2 separate regions of the Homo sapiens genome follow, and region 2 is linked to region 1. The links come from fine-mapping of genetic effects on gene expression. A gene starts in region 1. The other region holds a variant in brackets. All regions are shown on one strand. Distances are from middle to middle.

The links. PIP is the estimated chance that this variant, and not a neighbour inherited with it, causes the effect.
Region 2: its variant is fine-mapped to the expression of LINC02988 in whole blood (INTERVAL, PIP above 0.99).

The regions. Positions count from the first base shown.
Region 1 is chr1:150,154,146-150,166,025 of GRCh38, reverse strand. LINC02988 (long intergenic non-protein coding RNA 2988) reads right to left here and starts at 5,298. Exons shown (of 4, transcript NR_135098.1): 1 at 5,216-5,298; 2 at 1,724-1,830. PLEKHO1 (pleckstrin homology domain containing O1) reads right to left here. Exons shown (of 6, transcript NM_016274.6): 3 at 9,820-9,960; 4 at 9,011-9,115; 5 at 8,540-8,641; 6 at 5,961-7,207. The coding sequence ends at 6,503. RefSeq lists enhancers at 564-833, 1,014-1,063, 2,691-2,880, 5,229-5,538, 6,669-7,170 and silencers at 3,891-3,960, 4,549-4,618, 6,319-6,368.
Region 2 is chr1:150,079,637-150,091,516 of GRCh38, reverse strand. It overlaps VPS45 (vacuolar protein sorting 45 homolog), which reads right to left. Exons shown (of 15, transcript NM_007259.5): 8 at 10,041-10,175; 9 at 9,520-9,633; 10 at 8,634-8,801. Among named protein-coding and RNA genes, the nearest start is that of VPS45, 18 kb to the right of the region's middle. The variant C/T (reference allele first, on the strand shown) is at 4,798.

The sequences.
Region 1 (11,880 bases):
GCCACGGCCTTGATCTTGATGGGGCAGATCTACCTTGGCTGAGGGTTCTAGCCACCTGCCTCAGCCTCAGTGGGGTGTTAGTTTTTGAAGCTCCTGGTTGCTATCAATTTCTGAGTTCTGTCTATCTTTTATGGCTCTTCTGTTGCAGGCGATCTCTTTGCTACCAAAGAAGCCCCTGGCCCTCACACTTAGTTTCAGTTGTTTGCTAAGTGCCTTTCCTTATCTTTCTGTACGATACCAGTGCAGCTGAGTAACAGCCAATTCCTTTGTCATTGTGTGCTTTGTTCTCCTGTGCATTTTTGGTGTGTTTTAATTTTAATGTTAAAAATGGACACACTGTTATTGCCCATCCTTATGGGGTACAATTTATCTCTGTACTTTTCAAAAGCCTGAATTGTTTCACTGACCAGGTGGTCCCTGCCATCAGCACATTCTCCTAAATTACCAATGGTGAAAGTTTTTCTTGCTGGAGACTGTTCTGGTCTCTTATTTTTCTGTCAAATTCTGCTTGCAAACTGAAAAGTTTCTTTTTTAGTTCCTCTTTCCTGCAATACCTTACCAATCACAGCTAAGAAAAGCCTGTTGCTACTTTTAACATTCTGCCTGGAAGTCTCTTTAGCTACCTCCAACAAATTTATTAGGTATATTTTCTAGCTCCCAAGATACCACAGGTGACAGTTTTGTGAATGATTCCACCGCCATATAACACGGGTGGTCTTTCTCCCGTCTCTGAGAGCAGTTTTCTCCCTGCTCATCCAGACTCTGTAAGTCTCCTTGCTGCCCTTCTAGGCTGTCTGCTGCTGGGTCCCAAGATCAATGCCACTTGTTTCAGGTTTTAGTTAGGGCAGCATCCCACTTCCAAGAAACAATCTTTGTTTTAGTATCTATTGCTGAGTAACAAACCACCCCAAAACCTAGTGACTTAAGACAGCAATGGTTTGTTAGTTTCTCACACTTCTGGGGGCTGGCCGAGCGGCTGGTCTCTGGTCTTGCTTGTGTGCTGCTCCAGCTGTGTCTGACTGGAGGCTTGGATGCTGGGACAGAGCCATGTGGTTTCATGGTCTCATAGCAAGGATGCTCGCCCAGGCTTCTTAGAAGCACCTGAATTTTAAGAGAGTAAAGGAGTGGAAACTACAAGGCCCTTTAAGGCCTAGGCGCTGGAACGTACACAGCACATGTTCTTTGTTCTATTGGGCAAAACAAGTCACTGGCAAACCCAGATTCAAGCAGCAGTTGGAGAGAAAGCAATACCTCTCAAAAGGGAGGAACAGCAAACTCATATTGCAAAGGAGCCTGGAGTGGGGCTGGTTCACTGAGGATCATTATTTAGTCATTTATTACATTTATAGTACATTTAAGATGCATGTTAGATACCCAGGTAAAGATGTCAAGTTGACACTTAGCTCTAAGTGCCAGAGAGGGAAATTTAGGCTGGAGAAATAAATTTGGGACAACACATCAACATACAGATTTGGTGTGTCTCGGAATCATCCTGCCCTTAGGGTTGCCGGCTGCTGTATAAGTCTGGACTGTGCATGAATTGCGGTACAAGCGGAGTGCGGCCCTCTGCAGCCAGAGCTGGGTGGAGGCTGGGGCAAGAGGAACATTGTGTTTTTGAGTCCACTTCCCTATTTGTGCACAGAGTATTCCACTAGTGTTCTCTTCCCTGCCTCCCCCACTTGATAGAGCCAAAAACATTAGGGATGGTATTAGGACAACTGACCTGCATGCCAAGGACATAGGACAGGAGACTATGCCACTGCCTTGTTTTGCCACTTCAAATCAGGAACCTTAGGAGAAAGGGGCTGTTTGCTGTCATGGCTTTAATATCTGGAGGAAGGGAAAGAAAGAACGGACATGAGCCTACTATTTCTGAAAGAAAGGGGTGATTTCTGAGCCATCCCAAACCAGCAGGAAGGACAGGGGTGATAACCCCAACTTGTTCACAGCAGGAAGCAAAGAGGAGAAGGGATTTGGTGTCGGAGACCATGACAAAGGTCAAGAGTTCTAGTGCTACTTGCCTTTCTATGAGTTACTTTTCCTCATATTAAGTCCTTATGAAAGCCGCCTTATGTCCATGGTTTCTGTAGCTGCACCAGCCTCTACACTTCTGATAGTTCAGGAGGAGTTGGGAATCTGTATTCTCCAATTGCTCCCCAACCTTAATGCACTTAACAAGTGTGTTCTCCACACTTTTTAACCCTCCAAAACCCCGTTTTTAAACTGGTCCTGCTAATTTTTGCATTCTCCCCATCCTTGCTTCCAACCCCAGGGTTGGGGTGAGGTTGGGGTGGGCCATGTACAAGACTTTCTGGCTCTATCTCTCATTTCCTGAGCAGAGCTGGGCTGCACTAATTGACCTCGAGGGTCTCAGCTGTTCTAAGTGGGGTGTTTGTTAGCTCTTGTTAGGCTTGTAATTAGTGCAAGGAATCTAGGTCAGAGGCAACGGGTTGGAGTGATGGTCTCCTGGGGCACGACTAAAGGTGGGGAATAGCAAACAGCCTCCTCATTCTGTGGGTGGGACTTGTGTCACACAGAGACAAATAGACACAGGGTCACATGCAGAAAGGCGGTCAAACTCTGCTGTGTGTGCATGAGTATGTGCATGAGTATGAGTGTGTGTGTGTGTTCGCTCCTGCATTTACTCGGGTTTCTTTCCAACCTCTCCATATATGGCGTGGCTCTAGAGCAGGCTGGGGATTGGCTGCTCCTGTTGGGAGACAGGGAGGTAGTAAGAAAGCAGAAAGAGAAAGGAACCCAGCGTAGAGAAGGGAGTGACGAAGTGGGGGGTGGGGGCAGTAGCTGAGCTTGAGGGTTGCAGAAGTGGGCTGGGACTGCTTGCCTGTGAGGTTTAGATAGAAGAGAGATTCTTAGAGACTCATTTCCTGGGAGAATGAGGCAAATTTATTACTGGCAGAGGGGTTGGGAGAGCGGCTGGGGAAGGAGGCGAGAGCTGTTTCCCCAGGGACAGAGCTCTAGGCTCAGAACCGCATAGTATGTGAGGACCAGGGCAGGAGTTAGAGAAATTTGCACCTTTCTTTTCTCCCTGGTAAACCTATGCTGTGGAGATAGAAGGAAATCAACTCATCAGCGTTCCAGGCCAACACCCCAGACATTCTTCCTAATGGAGGGAGCCGGGACTGCAGTTCCTTTATCCCTCCTCAGGCCCCTGGCTAACAACCTGATGGGGAAGGACAGGAAAAGTTGAGGAAAGTGTCACTGAAATGAGAATTAAGATTTCGTTCTTTACCTGCCTCTACCCCTCACCCCCTCTCAACTCTGTGTCCTGGGTTCCACCCCTTACCCCGTCTCCCCATCCTAGGGCCTCCGGAGGGCACTTCCCTTTGCTTCATCTGTGTAAGAAAAGAAGGGAGCAGAGCGGTTGGGAGTGGAAAGGGAGGGAGAATAAGTGCACCCTGAAAGTGTCTGGGGGCAGCTGTGTGCTGAGAAAGTTGCCCCACACAGCTACTGAGCCAGCCCATTTGCCACGCATCACAGTTACCGGGGGCACGGAAGGGAAATATTGCAGGCAGAGGGGCTAAAATGATGAAGTGAGGGAGGAGAAGCACTGGGAGGAAGGGAAATGAACGTAAGCACCTTCCCATCCTCCTGTCACAGTGCCCAGGTTCAATACAAATGCTTCAACAGAACTCATGCCAGCAGCCTACCACAAGGGTGCACCTTAAGCGATTTTTCTAGTGGGAAGCCTGGTTCCATGCTAAGCTCTAAAGTTCTTGAAGACCAGGGACCATGCTTTCATCCCTTCTGGCTCTCTCCTCTGAAGAGAGAGGTCCAGCACAGCCTGTGGCCTGGATCTAGCTAAGTGACAGTGACCCCACCCCGGTGGCCTCATTCACACAGTGCTCCTTCCAACTGAGCTAGCGGCTCACTGCCCAGAGTCAAACCAGTAACAGTAGCTGCAGTGGTCACTTTCTGACTGACAGGCATTTTCCATATTGTCCTCACCCATCCAATAGCTCTGCAGCTTGCAGATGAAAAAAACTGATACTCGGAAAGCATGTGCCTTGCCCAGAGCCTCATAATCAAGAAGTAACAGAGTTAGAATTTGAATCCAGATCCATCTGGTTTCAAAGCTGGGCTCATTTCACCACCCTAGGGCCTGGATGTTCCAGTAACTGCTGGAGAACTGGAAGCTGTTGGTTTTAGAGCCTGAAGCCCAGGAGCACAGTGCCCAGCTCCTCTCTTACTGTTGTGAGGTCCCCGATCTTTCTTTTCTGCTTCTTTCACCTGTCATTCTCCTCTCTAGTGTCTCCCTCCATCTTCTGGCTCCCCTGGGAGCCACAGATAATTGACATGTTGGGATACACATGTCATTTGTGCTTTTGTCTTTTTTCATTATGTGGGAGCAACAAGGAAGAAAAAAAGAAAAGGAAAAATGCTGGTAAAATACAAAGATAGAGACTTGTAAAAAGAAAGCATAATTCTACCTTAGACTTCAATACTTGTGACAATGGATGGCTCTGCTGACCATGCTTAGGGCTGTGGAGAGTGCAGCTATTTGAAGGACAGGAAGTCTGGAAGCCTGGGTTCTCACCTCATACCCCAAGAGACCATAGAATGACATGAAGGTGGCACTCTTGCACACTTTCCCTCACTCAACTGGGATACACATTCTTCAAGGAAGAGGCTAGGTAACTACAGTCTAGAGCTGGGGACAATCTCCATGACAGAGTGGCAAGGGACTAGAGAGAGCAAGAATTCCTCTGCCCTAGGGATGGTTTAACAGCAGTGATAAGGTCCAGAGAAGAGCTGTGAAGGAAAGAGATGATTTCTGGAAAGGGGACAGAGGCCCCCATTTTGCTTACATGGGTTGTAGGAGTGACGTTAGAGCAGAAGAATGCGGACTGAAGAATCTGTTTCTCCCACAGGTTTTTCCCCCGCTTCCTCCTATCCCATCTTCCTATAACATCGGGGCAGCGTCATGGCCAGGTCTACATGTAACTTGGCCCCGTTTCCTCCCCCTCCTCCCCTTACCTCTAGTGAAGCCCCGCTGCTCTTGGAGGATCAAGCAGCTAGCAAGGCACACTTCAATGTGGCTTTTAACCCCTCATTTACTTGATTCATGAGACTCTGTCCCCTTCTTTCCCAAAATCAAATTATTCCCTTCATAGCTCTTCTGGGGACCTCACCGTTACTAAACCTCATCTCACACACTTCCAAGGAAAGAGTGAACAGTGAGTTGTGTGGGACCTACCACAGACAAGAATGTTGGGAAGCCTGGCAACTTCAGAGGTGGCTGGGAGGGTGGTGGCGTGGGCATCCAGATGCTTTTCTAAAGTGGGGACTTGCTTAGTGATGGAAGAGGTTTGAGGAAGGAGAGGGGGAGGCTACAGGAAACCTCAGCATGGCTGAAAGAGGAACTTGGACAGATGTTTGGTTTTCCCCTTCATCCTACCCAGCTTGCATCACACACCAGTTTCATTCTTAGTTCAGTTCTTCTGTGGGGTCTGTCTCTAGTTCCCCTGTGCTAGGGCCCTGAATCAAATAATGAAACTAGTCTCATCCACTCAAGGTTGGATTTTTTTTTTTTTTTTGAGACGGAGTTTCGCTCTTGTTGCCCAGGCTGGAGTGCAATGGCACAATCTTGGCTTGCTGCAACCTCTGCCTCCCAGGTTCAAGTGATTCTCCTGCCTCAGCCTCCCGCATAGCTGGGATTACAGGCGCCCACCACCATGCCTGGCTAATTTTTTGTATTTTCGGTAGAGACTGGGTTTCATCATGTCGGTCAGGCTGGTCTCAAACTTCTGACCTCAGGTGATCCACCCGCCTTGGCCTCCCAAAGTGCTGGGATTACAGGCGTGAGCCACTGCGCCCGACAAGGGTGGATCTTTGAGTCAAGGTTGGGAAGGGTGTGGAAGATGAAGGGAAGAAACACCTCATGTAAGAAAATCCAGGCAGCTCGATCTCAATGAGAGACTGCTAGGAATGAGAAGCCAGTGTCTGGCTGGGGAGATTTTAATTCCACAAATCCTCCTCAGGGCTGGGATAAATTTCACTTCCATGTGCACGGACAGGTGACACTGGCCTCCACATCCCTACAACTAGAGTTGGGCAGCTGAAACTTCACCCTCAAACTGAAGGCCTGGGGTGGGACATAACAGAAAACATCCTCATCCCCCTCCCGCTCTAAGCTTAGAAGCCCACTGTATCCTTGGGAGCAGCAGTGGACTCCCTGTGCCGTCTTGGGGGCGGGCGGTGTGTGGAGTGGTCAGACTGTGTCTTTACCGTGCCTTCTCTCTCTCTGGCTGGGTAAAAACTTCCTGCTACTGCTGCGGGGTCACTTCCTCAAACCTGAGGGGCATACGAGGGGCATATGGAAAGTAGGTGGGGCAATAAGGGTTGTAGTGGGGTCAGGCATCAGCAAGAGCAATGAGTTCATTTTTGTTTTCTTTTTTTGATTGAGGTAAATAAAAAAGCTTTATCCAGCAACACGGAGATAAGAGTCTGTCCAACCCGACAAGTTCCAGACCCCACCCTGCCCTCACATCAGGCTCTTCCGGTACTGACTGTGCGGGGTGGTCTGTCTGAGGTGGGAGTCCGGGGTCTGCAGGTCCATCTGTCTGTACAGGTCTCTCAGCTCCCTGACCTCCTGCAGCACCCTCTTTGCCTGGCTCCAATTCGATGATGCCTCTCCCAGCAGCCGTTCCGTCTCCAGCAGCAGCTGCTCTGACTCAGAATCCGGCGGAGACCGAGGGGGGTCCTTGGCCTTTCGCTTCCCATCTCCCAGTCCCTGAACCTCTGCCAGAAGCTCCTGAGTCTCCTCCAGTTTCCTTGCTACCAGGTCCTGGATCCGGGACAGCTGCCCCGGGTTGGGGAGGGCAGGGGTTGGGGGTTCCTCAGCCCGCAGCTGGAGGGTGCGGGCAGAGGCAGCATCCCGCTGAGATAGGATCTCCTCCAGGGAGGCGCAGCGGCCTTTCTCTGTGGGCGTCAACTTCTTGGGTGCCTGGGGGGTGTAGGTGGCCCCTTTGTCTGTTTTTTCCCAAGGTCGGGAGAGACTGCTTGCCCGGTCTGCGGAGGGCTGGATGCGGTCTGAGTCCGCTCTCCGCCGGCTCCCTGCCAGCTGGGCCACAGACTTGTCCAGGTCAACCCGAAAGCTCTCAGCACAAGAGGTTGGTTCCTCAGGGGAAGGGTCTTCCTCTTGGATCAAGTCCAAGGTCAGCATCCCATCCGAGGTAGAGGTGGAAGCCTGTGGAGGAAGGGGGGAATGAGTGGGGAACCTGTCATCAGGAGGGATTTTCGGAATGACTGCCTAAAAGATGCAAGCTGTGGTCATTTTCCTCTACAAGCCTTCCTTGAATGAGAAGTACTTTTTTTTAGAGACAGAGTCTTGCTCTGTCACCCAGGCTGGAGTGCAGTGGCACGATTTGAGCTCACTGCAAGCTCCGCCTCCCGGGTTCACGCCATTCTCCTGCCTCAGCCTCCCGAGTAGCTGGGATTACATGCGTGCACCACCACGCCCAGCTCTTTTTTTTTGTATTTTTAGCAGAGGCAGGGTTTCACCATGTTGGCCATGGCTGGTCTCAAACTCCTGACCTCAAGTGATACACCGTCTCAGCCTCCCAAAGTACTGGGATTACAGGTGTGAGCCCCCCTGCCTGGCAAAGCCCTCTGCTCTTGACTGAACCCTCCTACTGAATGTGCTGTTTCTTATTCCTTTGATAGTGACTTGAATGTTTCTTCTTCTGTGATTTAGTTTGTTACTTGTTTCCTGTATTCTCCACTCTACCATAAGCTTCCTGAGGGGCGCCCTCTTCCTTGGTATTGTGGACTCTCAGCAATTAAACTGCATCTGATGCACACAGGATGCTCCCCATGGCACGACTGTCCTCCTCCATCTGCATCCTCTGAGTCCCACACTTCAGCCCCCTTGCCTTATAATAAAATTTGTTCTCTTATTTCCAGAATACTAAAAATGATGAGTATTCAATACCAAATATGTTGTTTTAGTCATTCCTCACAGCAGCCCTTCAAGGCAGGCATGATTACTGCCTCATTTTACAGTTGGAGACATGCAACTTCAGGGAACCACACAGGTAGCTGATTACAGTGAGGTTCCAACTCAGGTTCTAACTCCAAAGCCTGTGTTCTCTGCATTATACCTGCCTGCCTCTCTCTCTGAAGACTTAAGAGCTCAGAGGCATGAAAGAAACTAGCACGTTGTATGTTTCAGGAGTTCATTGTGATCCTTTCTCCTCCAAACACCCGCGGTACTACATGTTGTTACCCATCAAGACAGCCACCATACAGTAGCTAATTTTTCATTTTCCTGTGGGTATAACTCATTTTCTCCGAAAGAGGGTAACATTACTGGGAGCTGGGACTTTTGAACTCCTAATGGGCGCTGAATAAAACCTTTTGATTTAGATCTGGCAGAGGCATTGGGTGGAAGGACTTCCCTCGCCTTTGATCTTGGCATCAAGGAGGCCTCCCGCAAATGCCTCTGGTGGCATACAGTTCTGTCTGAGATGGACTGACACAGAATTGGCCCTTTGGCAATGTTTATTACAGTCTTACATACCACAGCCATTAGGTGTCCCCTTGTTGGGGGGCGGCGGGAGTGCTGGATTTTTGCCCTGTCTCGAGTGGGATGGGCAAGATAGCTGTCCTCCTCAACGGTGACCTGAAGAGATGTACTGTGAATCATGAGTGCTCTTCAGCGACTCGCTGTCCCAACCCAGCATCCCGAGGCCTGAACATGTGCCCACTCCATTCACTGCTTCTGAATGGGCAAGGGGATTTACTGGACACGAAGGGGGCTCTTTAAGCTGACCCAAGGCTGGCTCCCCCATCATGAAGCGGGGAAGAGGAGGTGTCAGATGAGACTTGGAGAGAAGGTAGAAAGAGATCAGGGCTTTTAAAAGGGTGGTAAAGAAGTAGAGCTGGTGGAGGAGCGAGTAAACGGGGCCTGCACAATCCTCCCCCTTCAGTGGGTCACAGCTGTTCCCTCTGCCCCAGCGTTCCTCCCTCTCCCCACAGTGAGCCCCCTGACCTCATCCAAGATACGGTTCTTGGCTCGGGTGATGGCAGAGTTGAGGGCATTGATCCACGATTCCTTCTCTTCTGGACTCACTGCCAGGAAGATCAGGTTGGGTGCCTGTGAGGGGAAGATTCCTGTTTCAGCCAGGGTTTTAGAGGTGGTGCCTCACCTTGACAATGAAGAAATAAGAGATTATAATCTCACTTTCTTAGACCTAGCTCCAGGAAGGAGAGATATTCTGCTTCCAGAGTCATCCATAACTTAAGGAAACCCAGCTTCTATTCCTGCAAAATGCATAGCTAGGAGGTTGTTTTAGAAATGACCAAGGAGGAGCTAAGAAGGATACTGAATATTAGTATGGTATTAGAGATAATTAGAGGAAGTCTGATGAAGGATAGGTATTAAAATACAAATCTTTCAATGTTTGAAGAAATAGAATGTGACAGGAATAACTTCCCTGGGTTCCCTCAGACAAGATGAATTAGATTCAGAACTTCAACCACCTATCAGGGTACAAGGACAGGGATTTTCTTCTAAGGGATGTAAATATGCACATGTGTGGATGTGTGTGTATAAGACAGAGAAAAATAAAGAGATATATAGAGAGATGATCTTTGTGGCTGAACAGGTTAAAGGGTGGCCTGCCTGGAAAGAAGGAAATGGCTACAATATTCTCAGGTGAAATGATAAAAGCCAGCAGGAGAGCAATTCAGGGAATCTGAACCAAGATTGCTGAGAGAGAAACTGAGGGGAAGGAGTTCTCCCCTGCCCCCTCCAACCCTGTCCATGTTCCAGCAGCCAAGGTGGCAGGAGAAACATACCGTGTTACCGGGCTGTTTGGAGTGGGCAAGAGTAAACTTGCTATGATTTTTCTTGCTCCTGCTCTTGGACTTCCGGAGCTCTTCACACTTCTCATAGTCACTCAGGTCAAATACCTCTTGAATATTTTTCTCATCTTTTACCTAGGGGAGGGTTGGGGTGAGGTGAGGAGGATAAAATTATTTAGCCCCTCCACCCAGACTGTTAGTTTAGATCATCTTGGGAAACAGAGGAAGCCTGAGGAGAGGGAGGCACGCCAGGAGAGGAGAGGGCCGTCTGCCCAAAGCCTACAAGGTCCTCACATCGAGGAGGACGCTAGGGCAGCTCCAAGTCTTGAATGTTAAGGTGTGTTTCTGTTTAAACCCCTTCTCTTCACTCTCCTTAGCCAGGCTGCCATTTCCAGAGTCCCACTATGCCTCTCTTCACCAACCGCCCCACTCTTTTCCTTAAGGACACAGCTTACATGTTCTAAAAAGGCTCACGTCCTTAAAGGGACATGGTAGATGGTTGATCCATTGCCCTCAGTAAGACAGACCTGTATGGCCCTTGATGGTCCACAGAAAGAAGATCAAGGCAGGGCCAGTTATCGGGGTGTCTGGAGGGAACGAGGGGCGGTCTCTGGCCTCCCCACTCACATGTGTGCAGTATAGCTCTCCCACCCCACCTCGCTTCCTTCTCTGGTATGTACAATTATAGAGACTCATCTTCCTTGTTCATTTCAGGAGCATCGCCACCACAGGACGGCAGCCCCGTGTTCAGTTTGCTGAATTTGTCCAGAGAAGCTGAAAACTACAATTACAGTTCCTACCCTTTCCTCCTCCCTCTAAGGTACTGTGACAATCCAAACTAACTCCTCCAGACCCCCTATCTCTAGGCAAGAATGCACTTAGACTCTCCCTGGGAGACTACACTTTAGACTTGGAAAAAAGTGACTTCTGTGACTTCTTGCCATTATTCCAGTTTGAGTGCCTGGGCCCCCTTTACTGCCAGGAAGCTCTTCCTCCTATCTAAACTTAGCCCTCCCTGCTATAGTCTCCGTCCCGCACTCTGGTTCCACCTTTAGCAGGTTTTAAGCAACATTTAGCTCTTAGCACTCCTGCTGAACGTCTCATCGAGGCCGCATTCCTAGTGACATTCTCCAACCCCAACTAGCCTTTTCTGAGCACTGCAAAGCAGCTCTAGGAACATTTCTTCGCAGGTTCATCTGAAACTGACCACAATGTTTTCTCTTTTCCCCTAAGGTGGTGTTCCTACAACTCTGGGACTCTGAAGCAGTGGCTTATGGATTTGTTTTGGCTAGCAAGGACCAAAGTTACAGAGAGGAGACTTAGTTACAAGTCCAGACCGTGCAGTCTGTCCACCCTCCGTGGCTTGAGCCCAGGGTTGGAACACCTCAGGAAAAACCTGGTCACGTTTTCCTGGAATGAGAATTAAAAGCACCAGCACTTGTCTCATTAAAACTAAACAAACAGATAAAAGTAGCCTCACGTCTTCCTTGGATGACATCTACCCACCCTGACTGAAATTATTTTCCAAAACAGTCCCCAACTTCCCAAGTTCTGAAATAGGACTCGTGTGCATGGAGGTGAACTCATCTATCCTCCTGGTTCCTGGAAACCTGGAAGTGGGGAAGTGGTTCTCCCTTCCATTACCCAGACCATCTACAGTCTTGTATCTGCCCATCCTTCTGAACTGCTGCTGGACCTGGAGGCTGATGACAGATGAGGACAGATGTCAACATGGCCCCATTCAGGTGAGTGACGCCTCATACATCTACCTCCATTTGTTTCAGCAAGGCTTGGCTCCTCCAGGGCCTCCCACTTTCCAGGGTTCCCTGGCTTTGGGCTGGAAAGTGGCCAGAGGCCTTGAATGATTACGGGTGGAAGTAGGACAAGGTGCTGGCAAGGGGTGTCCAAGAGCAATTCCCAGAAACACGGGACAGGGATACAAGATGATGCATCATCCCTCCTCTCCCCCTCCTTCTCCAGAGCTGAGACTATCAGCAGAGCCCAGAAACCGTGGAGAGGAAAGTGTTGGGTGTGTGAATGTAGCCAGGGGAAGAG
Region 2 (11,880 bases), 75 kb after region 1:
TTACACAGACTGGGCTTGATCTCTAAGAAGCATCAGAACATGTCTCAACATGGTTGACAGAGATGAGTATGTAATAGCATGTAATCTCTAGATTTAGTACTTAATGATTTTAAGAGGCAGGTACCGATAGGAAAGGGGGCCAGGAGAAGCCATGTTTACATTTTTTAATCCTCATATTCAGGACCTTCCATATAGTATAGATTTATATTTATTATGCAGCAGAACAAATAATTTAATTCAAGTCAACAAATACTTTTGAGTCCCCATAAGGCAGTATGTCATGCACTGTTGCAGGCACACAGATAAGTTAAAGACAATTCCTGTCCCCAGTGAGTTCACAGTCAATGGGGTGAAGGATGATCAAAGTAATATAATTTATTCTGCTATATACATGTTTCTTTAATGTACTTTAGTTCTGTGAGATGGATAAATATGGAAATGGTGTCAGTTTAACACAGAAGGCATATTGGTTCACATGTAATTTTTCCAGAATGGATAGGCTTTCTTATGATTAAAGGGGAAGCCTTACCAATACCTTAAGAAAAAAAGATGATAATCCTACAGAAGTGTGTTCTGCAAGAAGTATCTGGTTTTGTAGCTTCAAGAACTGTTGCACTTTCCACTGTGTTATGCTATATGGGGAAAGGGCAAGTGCAAATAAAAAGGATGCAAATATATTGCACTGTGTAAAAAAGCAAAACAAAACAAAATAACAATCAAACACTGATTGATGAAGAAAGCTGTCTCCATATGGTATTTTTAATTTTGACAAAGTAGTCTTTATGAGAAGTGAGTATTTTCAAGACCTTATAATTTGAAGAAAACATGAGCCCCAGGAATAAGGCTGCAGAGGATGGACTGGCTCTATTTCTAGGTGCAAATGCCGGTGGAGATTTAACCATGCTAGTATTTTTATTATAATTGTTACTATTTTTATTAGGGCTCTGATTTAAAAATTATATGAATGTTTTCTTTCTTTCTATAGTCATGTAGATTTTAAGTGGTCTGCTTATAACCCTATATTCTCATAACCCTTTTTTTAGTGCATGTTTTTATAGAATATGAGGTTTTTCAGGAACAAATATGTGGTGTTATAACAGAAACATGTATGCAAAAAACAAAACAAAAAGCAAAAGCTGAAAATCAGTGCAAAAGAGGAAGGGGAGAGAAAGGGGAAGAGAAAGTATATTGGGTTGTTGAGAAATTAGGAAAGACTTCACAGAGGTGACACTTGCCAAAGGTCCTGAAGAATCAGTAAGTATTGGAACCAGTGTGAGAGACCAAAAGCAGTGGCACTATCAAAATAAATATGGAAATCAGAGGAAGAAATGGCTTGGTTTGAAAGGCTGGCAAGAGCCTTGAAGGGCACTGAATTCTGAGGACATAACTATCAACTATATGATTACTTTACAACTTACAAAATGCTTTCACGTACATTATCTCTTTTGTACCTGACAACAACCATGTCCAATGTCTAAGAGCTCTTCTGTTCACACTGACTAGGGACTATGATGATAATGGGGAACCTCCCATGTAGCTTTCAAGTACAGAGTTCTCTGAAAGAGATTTCTATTGTTGATTTTTTGGGTTACTATTTCACTACCATCATCCTTAAGGGATCAAAAAGGGAGAAACTTCTCTTCTGTAGATTTCGATCCCAAATTCGTAAGATTTTTCTTATTTTTTTCCTTTCATGGGATCTTTCCCCTAGAGCAGCCACGGAATACAGCCCATTTAGGGTATCTGTTCAAATGTTCCACTATTTTCTACTATAATATGAAGAAATTTCAGGTACAAATTATGTATGTATCTCAATCAACAGCGTAAGTTTAAAACATTAAGAAATCCTGTTGGGGGCCGGGTGCCATGGCTTACACCTGTAATCCCAACAATTTGTGAGGTCGAGGTAGGTGGATCACTTGAGGTCAGGAGTTCGAGACCAGCCTGGCCAACATGGTGAAACTCCCTCTCTACTAAAAATACAAAAAATTAGCAGGATGTAGTGGCGGGTGCCTGTAGTCTCAGCTACTCAAGAGGCTGAGGCAGGAGAATTGCTTGAACCTGGGAGGCGGAGGTTGCAGTGAGCCGAGATTACGTGCCACAGTACTCCAGCCTGGGCGACAGAGTGAAACTGTCTCAAATAAATAAATAAAAATTTTAAAAAATTTTTTTAAAAAGAAAAGAAATCCCATTTGGGATTTCTGTTGTTACTTTTCTTATAGGCACAATGTCTCATTTCCTGCCCTTGCAGTCACTCTCTTACCACCTTTTCTGGCTGATCTGTCTCTGTACTTTTAAGCAAATCTGAGAAATCCAAGTAACTATAAATTCACAAAACTGGTATGATGACAGTCAAAGACTATTTGCAGTAATCAGTCTCTGCCCTTTTCTATTTACCTTCACTTGGATCTTGACTCTTGGCTGTTTCTTATTAGAGATAGTAAGTGTTGTTGATGATGACGTGGAGAAATAAGAACCCTTACACACAACTGGTGGGAATGTAAATTAGTACAGCCATTATGGAAAATAGTATGAAGATTCCTTAAAAAATTAAAAATAGAACTACTATATGATTTAGCAATCTAACTACTTGGTATATATCCAAAGGAAATGAAATCAGTATGTTGAAGAGCTATCTGCACTCCTATGTTTACTGCAGCACTATTCAAAATAGCCAAGATATAAAATCAACCTAAATGTCCATCAACAGATGAATGGACCAAGAAAAGCAGTATTTAGGTCGGGCACGGTGGCTCAGGTCTATAATCCCAGCACTTTGGGAGGCCGATGCAGGTGGACTGCTTGAGCTCAGGAGCTGGGGACCAGCCTGGACAACATGGTGAAATTCTGTCTCTACAAAAATACAAAAATTAGCTGGGCATGGCAGTGTATACCTGTAGTCCCAGCTACTGGGGAGGCTGAGGTGGGAGAGTAGCTTGAGCCTGGGAGGCAGAAGTTGTAGTGAGCCAAGATTGCACCACTACCCTCTAGCCTGGGCGATAGAGCCAAACCCTGTCTCAAAAAAAAAAAAAAAGAAAAAAGGGAAAAGAAAATAGCAGCATATATATATATATATATATATTTATTATTCAGCCATGAAATAGAACAAAATCCTGTCATTTGTGGCAAAACAGATTAACCTGGAGGACTTACATTAAGTGAAATAAATCAGACACAGAAGGACAAATAGTGCACGATCTTACTCATATGTGGAATCTAAAAAGTTGTTCTCATTGAACTCATAGAAGTAGAGAGCAGAATAGCAGTTACCAGAGGATGGGATGGTGAAGGATAGGGGTGGTTAGAAATTGGTTAATAGGTACAAAGCTACAGTTAGATAGCAGGAATATGTTCTGGTGTTCTATTGCATAGTAGCATGAATAGAGTTAACAATAATGTATTATATATGTCAAAATAGCTATAAGAGAGGTTTTTAAATGTTCTTATCGCAAAGAAATGACAGATGTTTAAGGTGATGGATATGCTAATTACCCTGATTTGATCACTACACAATGTATACATGTATTGAAACATCACATTGTATTCCATAAATCTGTACAATCATTATGCATCAATCCTAAAAAAAATCCACTTCCATTCCTTGAGACTTGGTAGTGGTATTTAGATTGCCTGGCTTGACTCTTAGTTCTTGACTGAGGACTTGGCCCAGATCTGACCAGGCTTACTGCGAGTAATTATTTTGCCTACTTTTGAGCCCTTAGGACCCAACTCATGGCTCAGGTCCATGTTCTAGCTAGAGGCATCTATTCTCTCATGAAAAGAAACCTGTAGGTACAAGCTGAGTTCTTTCTTTTCTTTCAGCTGTATCAGTCCTTGGAGACGCAGGACCTTTTTGTCTGCCTTGATCCCACTTTATCCTTTGACTTCATTTTGAAGGATTTCCCTCATAACTACTTGACTTGTCAACTTGATTGACAGTGGCATACATTACATTGAGATTTCAGGGCACTAACCAGAGAAGAGGAGAAAAAAGAATCAGAGAGGCTTATAATTACAAAGCAAGTTATATGCTACACGGTAGTATTTATCTGTTGGAAATTAACTGAATTACATAATTTTTTGGTTTCTCTTATTAAATTTTCCATCAGCCTTGTGACTATTAGAAAAGAACACTGTCACATTATAACAATGACTGAGTAAAGAGCAAAACAGAAAATTGTCATCTACTTAAGAAGACAGGATTCGAAAACCTTGCACTGAACTCTAACATTTGTGTGGGCGTAATCAAGGAATAGGAAAAGCAAAGCAAAGCAAAGCAAAAATAGTGTCTTTGGAGATCAAGTTTCCTAAAGGAACTAACATTCATTTATAAGACATCAACGAGAAAACCATTCTTCTTTTCTGATATTTAGAGATTCTTCCATTGTTTCTGGCTAAATCTTTTTTTACTTTTCTGTTTTCTTCTATCAAAACTATGATAAAGCAGCACAGCAAGAAGAAATCATTATGACATACACACATTTCAAACTATTATACAGATTACAGTTGGTCTTGGTAATAAAGATAGTCTCCGTCTTTTTTTTTGTTTTAGTTTAACCTAAAGAACAGGATCCCTTCTTTGTTATCTACTATATTAATGTAGTAAAGTCAGAGAATAACAAAATAAACCAACAGATTAGGACAGTAAGATGGAATTGGCAGAAGACTTCCACATGCTGATCTGACAAAAATGAGCCTAACAGTTTGAGAGAACAGTGTTGTGGGAATATAAAAAGCTTATCAGGGAAAAATGATAGAAAGCAGACAAGACCCAATTCTACTGACTGGTAAATACAT[C/T]GGAGCCAGTATTCCTTTTCTTAATGACTAGTCAACATAAAATTGAGCTTTGCAGTAGATCTTCTGCTGATCAATACTATTTCTAAAATACTGGCTAAATGTTGTTTTAGAGTAAAAGGATCATTTTTACATTTAATTAATCAAAGTAAAATTGTCAGTCAGTTCAATGTGTCCCAACCACTTTTCTTATAATTTTAATGAGTGGCAAAACAAAACAAAACACACACACAAAAAAACCAAACACTTTTCTGAAATCAGAGAGATACAAGGCTATCACTGAACTAAAAAACATGTCTTGGATGCCATTAAGAAAATTAAATGTACCATCAAATAATAATACTCTTAATGTTGGTAGTTAATATTTCTTGAAAGCTGTAAGTACCAAGTACCATAAGTGTTTTACATGTATTAGCTCATTGCACTCTCACAACAATTCTGAGGTAAGTACTATTATTTTTCCCCCTTTATAGACAAAAGGACTGAGTTTTAGAGTGGTTAGGAATTATTTTCAAACCCAAGCCATCAAAGGCCCAAGCTCTTAGCCACTACTCTATACTGCTTCAAATAGAGCTCTTCCTCCTCATTTTTCTAATAAATATTTATTGAGTCCTTATTATGTATCATTAACAGGATGATTTGAGATCTTTATGAAAGGTCAGGAAAAAATACAAAATAGACTGGTTCCTCTCTCCAAATGAAAAACTGTGATATGACAACACAGGCTGGGCATGGGGGGCAGGGTATAGGGAGGATGGTAAGGGTGGAATTGCTCACTTTCTAAAGATGCTTTTCTTCATGGTATGGCAAATCTTCATTACTAATTAATAAATCTCTTCTGAGGATATGTATATGTTTCAGTGGTAGTAAATTTCACTTTGGTTCTAGTGAAATTCTTTCTAAATGAAATTTTCATTAGCCTACAAAATAATGGTTAGAATGGCAGCAATTTTTAAGTTAACTTTTAGCAATACATGCTTTTTTTTCTTGTCATGATACTATTCAATAAAGCAAACCCCATCTCTACTCACAAACCTCATTTCATTGCTTCATGACGTATTATCATCTAAGGTCAAGCCAAGGAATGCTATAACCCCTCTAGAAGTCAGGCCCCTGACATCCACTTACTATCAAACAAAAGATCCCTTTATAGACTATTTAAGTTATGTTGCCAAATAAGTCGTTTATGATGGGGGACTCCAAATCAACTGCTCACTGTAAAATCCCAATACCCTAGACAAGAAAACCTTCAAAAGATAAGTTCTAAAAATAAAAAGTGGATCACAAATAGAATTTATATTTTTAAAGTGACTATTTTTCTTTTAAAGTGAACACAAAAATAAAGTTTCAGACAAGTTATTACAAGAACTTTTTCTAATTGCTTTCCACATGTAGAGAGATACAAATAAAGACAGTAAAACTGGCTAGTGATTAAGTCTGGTTCTACTGTTTTCAAGGGAAAAATCAAATGATAAAGAAATATAAGAAATTTAAATTTAGTTACGGGACACAATTTTGTTTTTTATTTAATAAGAGGCAGAAAACTCATTTTTTGTGGTAAATATCAGGACATTTCTATTAGGCCCACAAAACAACTATAAAATACTATTAGTAGTGTTGTTTAAAGGCCAAGTTAAATAGATTAGGATACATCTTTACAAAGGATACTATTTAGTGATTAAAAAGAATGCGACTTTAGGTTCTGATCCAAAACCCAACAACAATAAGTCCCAGTAAAGACCCTGGTATAACTAGAGCACCCACAGGTAGACTTCTTTCTTTTGTTTGCACTATGTGTAAAAAAAAAATCATGCTTAGAGGAAGGGAACTAACATTTACAAAGCACCTATTACATGTGAAGCATTTTACATATCTCATTGAATCATCGTAACAGTCTGAAAGTTTGAAATCATAATCCCCAAGACTTGGGCAAATCAAGTAATTTTCCCAAAGAAACTTTGGTAAGGAGAGGTAGGATATAAGCCAAGCCAGTCTGGGTCCAAAACCTGAGTTGTTTCCAATATAACAGGTTGGCATTATTTTATAGAATAAAGTGGAACTGTAGCTGGGAAAGAAAGAAGCTAAGCTTTAGAATATAGGGCCCTATTAACAGGGAAATGTGCTTCTTATAAGTGGCTTAGAAATGGCTATTTCCTAAAGGACTCGTAGTCCTAAATTACTTGTCAGTGACATCATACTTTGTCATTTCTCAGGAAACATGGGATTACCTCTGATTTATTCTATCTTTATATCCAGCCTGTCGTCTAATTCTTCTCCCTTTGAAATGTTTTTCAGTTCAGCCCCTTGCTGTACATTTTTACTACTATCACTGTAAGTCTACAAGTCTCTCTGACCTGTTTTTTCACCTCTAAAGCATCCTTACTAGGTTACATTTCCTAAAATACTGCCTTCCTCACCTCAACTTTCTACATAAGATCCTATACTGGATCTCTTTGCTTATCTCAGCAGGTATAAATTCTTACAAGCCTCTTCATAAAGCTTGTAAACTGTTTTTTGTTTACCAATTCAATTTTATCTAATTCTGTTTCATACTCACTCTCTACAGGTCAAACTGTTTATTACTTCCTGCATATTTCTACATCTTTGCTTTTGCTGCTCCTGGCTGAACTCCTTCCCCAAATTCTATTCATTCTTTTGTGGTCCATCCAAATCTTGCCTTCTCTAAGAACTGTTCCTAATAACCTCAAAACCTGTTACAGTCAGTATTACAATTATGACTTAATTCTCATCTTGAAACATTATCTAATTTTTTCTTGTGCTTTAGTTTTGTCTCTTCAACTAGACTATACATTTCTTGAGGCCAGAGTCTGATTATGTTGCTATTCTTCTAAAATCCTCCGGGAGCCCCCATCATTTTAAGATTAAAGCCCAACTTCCTTCCAATGGCCATAACCTGGCTTCAGTCAGTCTTTCCAGTCTAAGACCACTCATCTTGTACCCTGGACTAGCCACACTGAACTATTCTCTGTTCCCATATATATATTTAAATATATGTATATTTCAAATATAAATATTTTATATATATATAGAAAATATATATATATATCAATATTTATTTCTTCACATCTTCATGCCTGCATTCTCTCTGCTGAGAATGTTTCTTCCTTTTCCCTGTTTGATGTTATTTTCCCTAAGAAGTGCTAAGAAGCTTCATCCTTGGGGAAAACAGTTGTCCTTCCTCTGTATTTCCATATTCCTTTGTAAATACCTCTAATATAGTACATAGTGCTTGGTATTACAATTGCTGGTTTAAATTTCTTTCTCCCCTACTGTAATGTGGTATCTTATTCATCTTTGTATTCAGATCCTCACAGCAGTAGTATATACATATAGCAGGCATTAATATGTTGGTGCGATGAAAAGCAGATCTTCAATAATGAAAAAACTTAGACAATACATTTTAATATATGTTTTATCTTTTAAAGTCTTCCTAACCACTCTGTGAGATGAGTATTAATATACCTATTTTACAAATAATGAAACTGGCTCAGAGATTAAGTCAACAGCTCCATGTCACAAAGCCTGTAAGTGGTATACCAAACACTCCAATCTAGATCTTCTGATTCTAGTTTGGTGCTCTTTCTAGTAGACTAGGCTGCCCTTATACTAATTAACTGAACCCTTGGGAATTGCACATTACACTTCTCTTGTGACTCTTTTTATAGATCTATCTTAAATAATATTAATTTGTGTTCTCATGTCAGCTCCTTGTTGGACTAAATTCCATGTTGATGAAGAAGGATTACTTGCCTTTTTATCTCTTGCTCTGCCTGGCACAGTGCCTTACACATAGTAGGTGCTCATCAAATTGGACTGACCTGGAGAGCACTAGAATGGTCATTTTGACAGGCCAGTTCTTGCTCAACCTCTGAAACCTCCAGCAGATTCCGTTCACTGACCAATCGAGACAGTTCTCCAACCACTGTCACATGCTTTGAAACAGTCCCAGACATTTTCTTGAACTGTGGATAATTCTCAACAAACGCCTGCCATGGGAAAAACATCAATGGGAGGTTCTGTTATTTTTTGACTGAGGATAAGCATGTACTGAATGGGGGTTGGGGAAAGCGGGGGTTGTTTTTCAGCCCAGATTAAAGCATCTACAACTTTCAGCCACATGGCATTTTGTTATGCTTAAGAAGAGAAGAACTGGTATATGTTGGTAGACTGAGTTTTTTTTTTTTTTTGAGACAGAGTTTTGCTCTTGTTGCCCAGGCTGGAGTGTAGTGGCGTGATCTTGGCTCACTGCAACCTCCCAACCTCCGCCTCCCAGGTTCAAGCGATTCCCCCGCCTCAGCCTCCCGAGTAGCTGGGATTACAGGCATGCGCCACCACACCTGGCTAATTTTGTATTTTTAGTAGAGACGGGGTTTCACCATGTTGGTCAGGCTGGTCTTGAACTCCCGACCTCAGGTGATCCACCCGCCTCGGCCTCCCAAAGTGCTGGGATTACAGGCGTGAGCCACTGCTCCCAGCAATAGATTGAGTCTTTAAATAGTCCAGATATTACTGAAGAATGGAAAGAAGCACATGGCTTATCATAAAGTTTTCACTATATTGTTTAAAGACATTACAGAAAATAAGTCTCAAACCAAATAAAATCAATCAAGGTAGAAATTAGACCCAGAAGATTCCAAAAGTGTTGCTTACATGAATAGTACCAAACTGTCACATGTTTGTCATTCATGTACATGTTCAATTTACCTTCATGTCTGCTATTGATTCTAGTTTTTGCTGTTCTTTTGGTTTCTTCTTCTGAAAATCTTCCATGAGATTCTTTATATTGCTACCAATCTCAGCAAAGTTCAGGTACATATTCTGTGAAAAAGAAAGTTGGAAGCACACTTCATCAACTAGTCTGACTTTCAGACAACTTGAAAGAAGTGAAAAAGAATTTGGAACACAGAATTGAAGGGCAGGGAAATTCTATTTTAATTACCAAATTTGGACATTAGCTGGGACACTGTTGATGAATACCATTACTATTCTCACAAACAGCTACTGGAGGGGAGAGAAGTAAATAACTACGTGATCTCTATGAAAAAAAATTGCTAAAGGGTCAGAATCCAAGTCTTCTGCCTTCCCTTCAGAGGCAGTTTATGCACAGGATGCCCCTATCATCCTTTCACATGAAATCCCATGCCTGCCCCTATACTAACAAGCCAATATTGATCTTCTTACATAAAAACAACTAAAGACAATTTAAAAAAATTTAAACCACCTACATTAGCATAGAATTCATCATTTTCAGCAGATAGGACCACTTCTCTTAAGTCTTTACTGATTCCCGGCACTCTGGAAAGATCAATCCGATTGTTGTTTATGCCTAGTAGTTCGTGGACCATGGCCTGATATGTCCACTAAATAAAGAATTATGAAAAAAAAAGGTAACTGACAGAATATGGAAATAGTAAACGTTCAGGAAAACAAATAAAAACTGATAACATTCTTTAACTAGTCTTCTTTACATGAAGATTCTCGAGTTAAATTTTATTCATACTTTGTGCTATAAGCATTAAGACTGTCATTTTAATTGATTAAACACTGAAGAAAAGTCAAAATACTTTTAGATTTCATACTTTTGGAAAAAGGGCAGCAAGATTAATATTCTTGATAGAAAGAAAACAAATTAGAGCTATTATTAGCTCCAATTTTTTGCCTGTGAATTAAGAGTATATTTTTGGCTTCACAGATAGAGCTATATTGGTACTGCAGTTACAAGCTGTACCATTTCCTGTATGCTTCTATGGTTTTCTGCAGCATGAGAAGTGTGTTCTTGCAGATCTGAGTGGTACTATATTTGTCCTGGGAACACTAATATTATCAGAAAAACCTTGTGAGTTGATCAAAACACTGGGATATTCAGAAACTTACCTTTGAACCCATTTTATTTTATATTTTTACCTAAGGGGAGATGAGAGGAAGGACTGGTTTCCAGTCTCACAAATTGAGAATTTATTTGGTAAAACTGGAAATGAGAAATCTCCAAATTTTCCCTTTTCACCAATTATGGAGAATAGATTACTTTCAGTCATAGGTCTGTTAGACAAAATGAAGTATTTTCTAGCATGTTCCCTTCTGCATCTAGAATCTAAATGCTAGAAATATTTATATACATATTTTATCTTAAGAAAACTAGATTTATTAAGAAATAATTTAGAAGGTTATAAAAGAAGGTGCTTATTTCCTAAAAGATTTGCCAAAGGAATTCTTGAAAAAGCAAGTTCCATTAAGTCGCACTTAAAATAAGTACAACAAGGCTGGGCATGGTGGCTCATGCCTGTAATCCCAGCACTTTGGGAGGCTGAGGTGGGTGGATCACTTAAGGTCGGGAGTTCGAGACCGGCCTGACCAACATGGTGAAACCCCATCTCTACTAAAAATACAAAACTAGCCGAGCATGGTGGCACATGCCTGTAATCCAAGCTACTCAGGAGGCTGAGGCAGGGAATCACTTGAACCCAGGAGGCGGAGGTTGTAGTGAGCCAAGATCACACCATTGCACTCCAGCCTGGACAATAAGAGCAAAACTCCATCTCAAAAAAAAAAAAACGTACAACAAAATGTTTTATGCTTTTATGGATAGCTTCTTGTACATGCTTCTAGCACTTACTCTACAATTAAAATTATGTTTATTTTTCTCATAATTGGACCATGAGCTCTTTGAGGACAGAAATTGTAACTTTTAACCTTTTATCTCTAGTACTTAGTTTAGTACGTGGCACAAAAGAAGTCCCCAGTGAAATCTGTGGGATAAATAGTTGCTTTTCTTTGGGAGACAGAATAATAGGCAATTAATTTTCTTTCTACTTTTTGATATTATCAAAAGTTTCTTTGGTGAACATATATTACTTTGAATTTTAGGAATACAAGGCTATTTTATACTACAGAGAAGTTTCACTCCACAGATTTCCCTTAGCATTAACATTAGTACAAGCTGGGAAGAAACTGAAACATAGACTGTGCCTTTCTCTGTAAATACAAAGTCACAGCCGGGCGTGGTGGCTCACGCCTGTCATCTTAGCACTTTGGGAGGCCGAGTCGGGCAGATCACTTGAGGTCAGG